Linked DNA regions of Homo sapiens. The protein of the gene in region 2 interacts with the protein of the main gene of each other region in a biochemical or structural test. Each region holds a gene or a part of one and is shown on either strand. Other genes may lie near its edges.

Region 1 (3,911 bases), on a different chromosome or scaffold from region 2:
ACTTCATAAGTGAGTTGATGCTTTGGTACATTTTAATCTTTTTAAATTTGAAAATATGTGCCATTTGCAGAGGTGTAGGTATTGTTATATGTTTATATTTCAGTTTCTTGTGCACTTGTTGCTAATTTAAGAAGTTTCTGAGCTGGGCACGGTGACTACACCTGTAATCCCAGTACTTTGGGAGGCTGAGGCGGGCAGATCACGAAGTCAGGAGTTCAAGACCAGCCTGACCAACATGGTGAAACCCCGTCTCTACTAAAAATAGAAAAATTAGCCGGGTGTAGTGGCACACGCCTGTTATCCCAGCTATTCAGGAGGCTGAGGCAGGAGAATCGCTTGAAACCGGGAGGGAGAGGTTGCAGTGAGCTGAGATCGTGCCAGTGCACTCCAGCCTGGGCGACAGAGCGAGACTCCGTCTCAAAAAAAAAAAAAAAAAAAAAAAGACGTTTCTGGATTTCACTACATGTTTCAGAAGCCATTCCTCAATCACTTCCTATTCCATTGTTTTATTTTCTTATATCTATTACCATCTGAAAATATTTATTTATTTATTTTTAGTCTGTCTTCCTCACTAAAATATAAGCCACATGAGGACAAGGACTTAGGCTTTTTTTGTTCACTATTCAGTATTTAGGACAGTATTTAGGACAGTCTAGCATATAATGGGCTTAATAAACATGTATTAATTGAATGGTCAAAAAAAATTTTTTTTTCTCCATTTTATAGCCTGCCTTTACATAGGGTGCCACTAGATGGCAATCATGCCTTTTTAGGCACTATGATGCTGGAGTTTTGGGGCATTAGAGGAAACTGAGAAATTATTGGCTCAAAGTAGAGAACTTGAGGTCAGAATTAATGAGCTTAAGAATTGAGAATGTGTGAATTATCACAGCAGCTCAGAGGGAACTATAAGAACCAATAATATTCGAGATGGTAAAAAGTACTTAAAATGAAATGTACAGTGTGGCTTTTTGTTTGTTTTTACTGCTCCATTCCTATTGCCTAAAACAGTACCTGGTTTCTAGTAGGCTCTCAATAAATAATAAATATTTTGTAAATGAATAAAACAGGGCCTAACTATATTCCTCTTCATATAAGTTCTTTGTTTGAATGTACAAATGGTTGACATTCTAGAATACTTTGGTCAGTATTATGGACTTAGAATATGAAATTTCTGTATGGATATAAATTTCTACAATGACTGTATTTTGAACCAGGTTTTTTTCCTGGCAGAAGAAGTTGTCCTCAACTATCAGTAGGTTTTTAGAGGTATGTATTGAGTCTAAATTCTAGATTCCTGTTTAGTTATTAGCAAAATAATTATAAGAAATTGAAGACAAGTTAAATATAAAATAGAAAGATATTGTTTGCTCTTGTTCCAGATGAACATCACTCGAAAACTATGGAGTCGAACTTTCAACTGTTCAGTCCCTTGCAGTGACACAGTGCCTGTAATTGCTGTTTCTGTGTTCATTCTCTTTCTACCTGTTGTCTTCTACCTTAGTAGCTTTCTTCACTCAGAGCAAAAGAAACGCAAACTCATTCTGCGTAAGTTTTTTACAATTATTTATTTTATAGATAAAAGCCTGTATTTTAAAAATTTAGGCCTGTTTTAGAAATGATAGCTACTCTGAGAACTCAAAGTAGATTAGCCTAAAAGGACTCTCTGCTTTAAGTTTTACAATCATGCTTACTAGTGAAAGAGATCTGTGAAAATTTTATAAGTGTGGACAATAAAAAGTTAAAACAGGGCTAGGTGCAGTGGCTCATGCCTGTAATCCCAGCACTTTGGGAGGATGAGGTGGGCGGATCACGAGGTCAGGAGATCGAGACCATCCTGGCTAACACGGTGAAACCCCATCTCTACTAAAAATGCAAAAAATTAGCCGGGCATGATGGCGCATGCCTGTAGTTCCAGCTACTCGGGAGGCTGAGGCAGGAGAATCATTTGAACTTGGGAGGCGGAGGTTGCAGTGAACCGAGATCGCACCACTGCACGCCAGCCTGGGAGACAGAGTGAGACTGTCTCAAAAAAAAAAAAAAAAAAAAAAGTTAAAACACAGTGTCTTTCAGATGATTAAATTGAGAAAGCTAGATTACCCCTGGAATAAGGTTGGCAACAACAGAAGAATAACAACAGAGGCTTTGCACTCCTAACATGGCAATAGCAGGGAGATACAGACAGCTCTTAGACCCATCGGAGTCATGGTAGAACCACCTAAGTGTGGCAGGCAGGAAGAAACTATAGCTGACATAACAGACAGTTTGTTTGTGAACAAATTGGAATCGTAGTTCCAAGGAGATTACTTGATATAATAGTATATGCTCAATACATATTAATTCCCTTTCTTTCTCCCTATGAAATAGGCCAGAGCAAAAGAAGCACTAACTAGAGATCCCATCCAGCTAAGGAAGAGTGGCTTCTAAGTCACGTGGCTTTCTTGTTTATTATCAGAATGAAAGTACAGGCTTATGCCTTAATAATTTTAGTTTTTAAAAAAGAGAACTGTTTAGGGGAAAAGGTTAATTTTCTTTTCTCTCAAATACTATTTGTAGTCTAGGAATGTCTGATATAAAAATTCTTTTCCCTATAAATTTCGATCACTACTTCATCTAACTTCACTTCTAATATATCTAATTTTTTTAAAAAAAGGTTACCTGTAGATCAGTTTGAACTGAATTTGTAATGTTTTGTCACCTTAAAATGCTAGCTACTAGAGGGGAGAGTCTTTGTCATGGGTGTATTTATTAAAGGTTTTTTGAAGGCTGCCAGCATTCTGTAAATATGCAGTAGCTCAGGTCCTTAAAGCACTTACTTAGAATAATAGCAAAATATTGTGGGCACCTCACCATTGAGAAACTATTTTTCAGAGCTTGGTATACTTTTAAAGTTTAGCATCTTATTTGCCTTGCTAATCTATTTAACTTTATGGAAAGTATTTACTGCTTCTGATCAGGATTTTTTGTTTGCTGTCAAAGTAAAAGTCACTACCAGTGTCACTATTTGCTATGGAAGCCACAAACCTTGTAGTCATTTCTTAATTATTTTCTTTCTTTTATTTTTCCATTCCCACATTCCCCTCTCATCCCCTTTTAATTCATTAGCAAGTATGCTGCCAGTTCTGCTTAGTCCGTCTCTCTCCCTCCACTGGTAAACCCTAGCCCAAACCATCTTCATCTCTTATCTGTACTAACGCAAGAGCCCCTTAACTGGTATCCCTCCTTCCATTTCTTGATCTACTAAAATCCATACGCCACATAGTGGCTAGAATAATTTTTTAAACACAAATTCACCATGTTTCTCTACTAACTTGGAATGCTTAATGTGTTCCCATTGTACCTAGAATAAATCCAAACTTACTTTCCAGGGTCTGCTCTCCAAGCTGTACATGACCTGGCCCATAGCCACCTTTCTAAACTCGTCACATCCATTCTCCTCATTGCTCATGGTGCTGTGGACAGTCTGGTTCCTTTCTGTTCTTCTCCACTACCAAGCTCATTCACACTGCCCCTTTTCCAAGGCCCTTCCCTCTTTACTTACCTGGCTTCTTGCAAGCCAGGTCTTAGCTCTAAAGTTACTTGCTCAAAGAGACCTTTTATGACTCCCCAGTCTAAGAATACACCTCTCCATTTGTTCTTCTGTGCCGTCTTTCTTTAATGGCACTTAATCACTTAAACTAATTTAAATTAAATAATTGGTTATTTAAATCATCTTTTTCATTTATTCTCTACTTTATTTGTTTGTCTTCCCTGCCTGAAGGGAGGAGCTAACTGCATTAGAGGTGTTGAAATTCACCGTTAGATGATCCCTGGGCTAGAATTTTAAAGGATGTGGGGATTTATCAGGTAGGGAATATAAAGGCAAGGAAGATGTAGGTGTATGTACTCATTCGTATTTAACTTGTCCAGTT
Region 2 (3,911 bases):
TTACTGCCCCAGGCACATAGGGCTCCCACAGCCCAGCCCAGCCCAGCCCAGCCCAGCCCTCTGGCTGATGCCCTCTCGCCTCCCAGCAGCCCTCTCCTACTTGGGTCTGAGGACAGAAGCCCTCCCTGCACCGAGGGCTCCAGGGGGAGGTGGGGGTGGAGGCCCTGGAGCAGCCAGTGGGGCAACAGGCGACCACCTCCTGTCCTTCATCCAGCAGCCCTGCAGCGCCACTCAGGATGCGGGTGGGAAGGGCTCAGGGTGAACCTCAGGCCTGTGCTGTCCCTGAGGCCAAGAAGAACTGGCTTGTAGGCGCCATTTTCTGGCGGCTGCCACCTCCGCCATGCTGGCCTGGCCTCGATCCCACCCCTCCGCAGCTCCTGATGCGGTCCGTGCCTGTGGGGAGCAAGACCCCCCCACAACCCTGGAACTCACCCTGGGCCTCATAGCCGGCCAGGTCAGGCTTCTCTGAGGCTGCCGGGCTGGTCAGGCGGCCGAGCACCAGCTGCAGCTGCGCCACGTTCATGCGGGCCGTGAGCTCCCCATGGCGGTCCCCGATCTGCGGCGAGTGGGGTGGCGGAGCGGGCAGGTGTGGCTGGGGGCCCTGCTGTGGGCTCCAAGGGGACCTTAATGGCCCCCAGTACACCCGTCCCTGACCTTCTGAGTGACCTGAACTGGTCACTGACCCCTGGGCCTCTGAGGGAACCAGGACTCACTGTGGACCCGGAGGTGGAGTCTGGGGGTCTGTCCCTGGGTGAGGTGGCCCCACAGGTCCTCAACAGCCCCTAGTTCACCCCAGAGATGCTTGGGGTCCCAGGCGGTTGGGCCTGTGCCCTCCGGTGCGCGAGGGGCCCGGCCCCGCCCGGCTGCACCTCTCTCAGCCCCTGCCTTGTGCGCCGAGGCTCTGTGGGGGACCCTCCCGGGAACATCCACATCACTCAGGAACTAACTGTTTGCTTAAGTCAAGCAGAAGAGAGGTGGCATGGGGTTGGGGGGAGGGCCACATGGAGCCCTGGAAGGCCCTGGAGGCTGTAGCCTGCACTCAGAGGGACACGGGGGCTGCCTGCTGGCTGCCAGTGAAGCTCTTCAGACGAGGGCTCTGCTGACCTTCCCATGCCCGCCCCTCTCCACCCTCACCTGGGCACCTGCAGGCCTCCCCACCCGGCCACCTCCTACATGGGTCTATGGTGGTCAGTAGGGGCTGGCACCGTCTTTAGCATGAACAGGCTCGGGGTGTGCAGAGGGAGGTGGCGTGGGAGTGGGTGATGTAAGGACAGGCCGGGAGCCGGGAGGCCCACAGTTCATCTGTGATGTTCCGCCCTGACCACAGTAGGAGGGCGCTGATGGGCGGAGCCCACAGAGACCCTGTGCAAACTCTCCAAGGAGGAGGAGACGCAGCTGCCCAGGAAGGCACCAGCTGGGGGCTGCAGGAAAAACCCCCGGGCATGGTAGACATGTCATCACCAGGCCTCGGAAGGACCAGGCAGCTGCAATGGCCCTGAAAGGATGAGGGGGGCCCAGGCACGCACACGCTCGCTCGGGGCAGAGGGGACCCGGCCCGTCTGGAGTGGGCTGGGCAGTGCCCGGGACTTCTGGGGGCAGGCCTGGCTCACCTCCTGGGAGATCTGCAGGTGCTTCTTGGCGAAGGTCAGGGCCTGCGCTGGGCGCCCCATGGACACGTAGGCATTTCCCAGGCTCCAGCACGCCCGGCCCTCGCCCACTCTGCCAGAGAGGGAGACCAGATTCATACCCGCCCTCTCCAGGCCAGCCCCCAGCCCCAGCCCCTCCCCTGGTGGTCACGGCCCCAGCATGACCCTGGCTTCGAGGGTCATCAGGGGCCCCCAGGCCCAAGGGGCATTGGCCGGATGACAGGATAATGCCCCCAGCTGGACCTCCCACAAATTCTGCCACCTTCAAGCATAAGCCCCAATCAGCTCTGCCTTTTTTCTTCCCATTAAAAGGATTAGCGCAGAGTCCAAGCAACCTGGCCTGTGGCCGGCTCTGCCTTTGCGGGCAGTTTCTGGGCCCTTGGCCTCGCTCGCCCCCTGGCGGCCGGCAAGCCTCCTCCCTTGCACTCCCTCCACCCTTACGGGCACCCTCCAAGTCACTGGGTGAGGGGGTTGTTTTTATATTGGAGGGAAATGCGTCTAACAGGAATTTGATCATTTTCACGTGGACGATCCACTGGCATTTTGTACATTCATGCTGTGCAACCGGCACCTCTGTCTATTCCAGAACATTCTCCTCACCACGCCACAAAGGAAAACCTTGGGCCACTTTTAAGCCTCCAGGCAGGGCAGCCTTTCAAAAGACCTCTCCTCTCTGCTGCCTGTGAAAGGCCACAGGCCTGTGGCTCTGAGCCCCTTGTTCCGGCCACCACCCACCCCAGACCTGCACACAAGACAGTACTTAGGGGCCTGTGGTTTGCCAGCCTGTCTCTCTCCAGAGAGTGATATTTACATACATACATGGGTGGTGGGGGCAACAGGGTGGCGAATTGAGGGATGGGAGGGGGACCCCACCCGCTTGTGCCAGGGGTCAGTGGCCGGCCCAATGTCCACACTGTCTGGCTCAGTCCCCACAGTGGCGTTGCCACTCCTGGGTCACAGCATGGTCAGTGGCAGAGCAGGGGATGGGACCCAGGCCACCTCGCCTGGGCCGCGGTAATTCAGCCTGTGGGCCGGGCCGGGTCTGCCCGCCGCGTCCGCGCCCACGCACCTGTCGGCCAGCTCCTGGGCAATGAGCAGGTGCCGCAGGTGGTACTCGGCCGCGCGCTCGTAGTCCTGCAGCAGCGTGTAGGTGTTGCCCAGACTGTAGCAGGCCTGCGCCTCCACTGCCTGGTCCCTGAGCTGCCGAGACAGTTGCAGCGTCTTCCTGTGCAGAGTGGCAGGGTCAGCCCCCAGGAGGAGGGCTCCAGGGTGAGGGGTGGAAGGTAAGAATGGGGACGCAGTCTGCCCGATGGTCCCCTGCCCCGGAATCCCACTGGGGCCTCTCTGGGGTCCAGCTTCATCCCCACCCTCACATGGCCACAGAGCGGGACTGTTGGCCCCAGGGGGACGGGGGGTCCTGCCAGGCTCTGGCAAGTTGCCTGACCACCCTGAGCCGCCACCACTCCTCCCCGGAGGACCTGAGACTGCTGTGCCCACTGCTCAGGCTGAGATGGGGTTAAGTTTAGGGCTGGGCACAGGACCCCGTGCTGACAGCCGGGCTCCACCCGGCAGGCGCTGCTCTGTGGCTCAGGCCAGGAGGCAGATGGCCCAGACCTCCCATAGGCCGGCTCCCCCACCGCCTGCCTCCCCATGAGCTTTGTCCGTCTGCCCTTCCCGGGGCAGCCTAGAACCCCACCTTGCCTTCTGGGGAGGGGAGGGGAGGCAGTCAGATTCCCAGCTTGGGGCGGGCACTTCCTTGGCCTGGCATCCAGCCCCCCCGGCCTGCTGTCTCCCTGGGAGATTGTGGGGACCACCTACTTGTAGTACTCGGCGGCCACGTCAAAGCGCCCCAGGAAGACGTGGGCGTTCCCCAGGTTGCTGTAGGCCCTCCTCTCGGCTGCCTTGTCTCCAAACTCCTTAGCAATGGCCAGGCGCTGCGGAGACACACCGGAGGCCAGGTGGTCATGGCGCAGCCCCGGGGCCTGACGTGGGCGGACAGGGGCTGCCTCCCTGCCCAGGTGGCCGGCCAGAGATCTGTGTGTCCGGGTGAGCAGCTAGCAGCTGCAGGACCAAGTGCAGATGAGGCCAGGACTCGGTGGGGCGGGCCTGCTGCCTGGCCATACCACCCTGCCCTTTCAGGGACCGCCAAGAGGGTGGCTCAGCCCTGCCCCTGCAGCAGCCCGGCCCCTCCACCCTGTCACCCTGCCCGGCTCACCTCCTTGTGGAAGGTCGTGGCCTCTGTGAAGTTCCCCAACAAATAGTGGG

The links.
Region 1: the proteins of GPSM1 (region 2) and OSTM1 form a complex in vitro, tested with the Homo sapiens proteins (one study listed by BioGRID).

What each region holds. Positions count from the first base shown.
Region 1 is NC_000006.12:108,046,890-108,050,800, reverse strand, and holds part of OSTM1 (osteopetrosis-associated transmembrane protein 1 precursor), read left to right. Parts: intron 1-1,217; coding exon of another isoform or gene 1,218-1,269; intron 1,270-1,382; coding exon 1,383-1,548; intron 1,549-3,911. UniProt on the Homo sapiens protein: Required for osteoclast and melanocyte maturation and function.
Region 2 is NC_000009.12:136,337,515-136,341,425, reverse strand, and holds part of GPSM1 (G-protein-signaling modulator 1), read right to left. Parts: coding exon 3,862-3,911; intron 3,581-3,861; coding exon 3,465-3,580; intron 2,872-3,464; coding exon 2,716-2,871; intron 1,720-2,715; coding exon 1,611-1,719; intron 557-1,610; coding exon 433-556; coding exon of another isoform or gene 266-432; exon of another isoform or gene 1-265. UniProt on the Homo sapiens protein: Guanine nucleotide dissociation inhibitor (GDI) which functions as a receptor-independent activator of heterotrimeric G-protein signaling.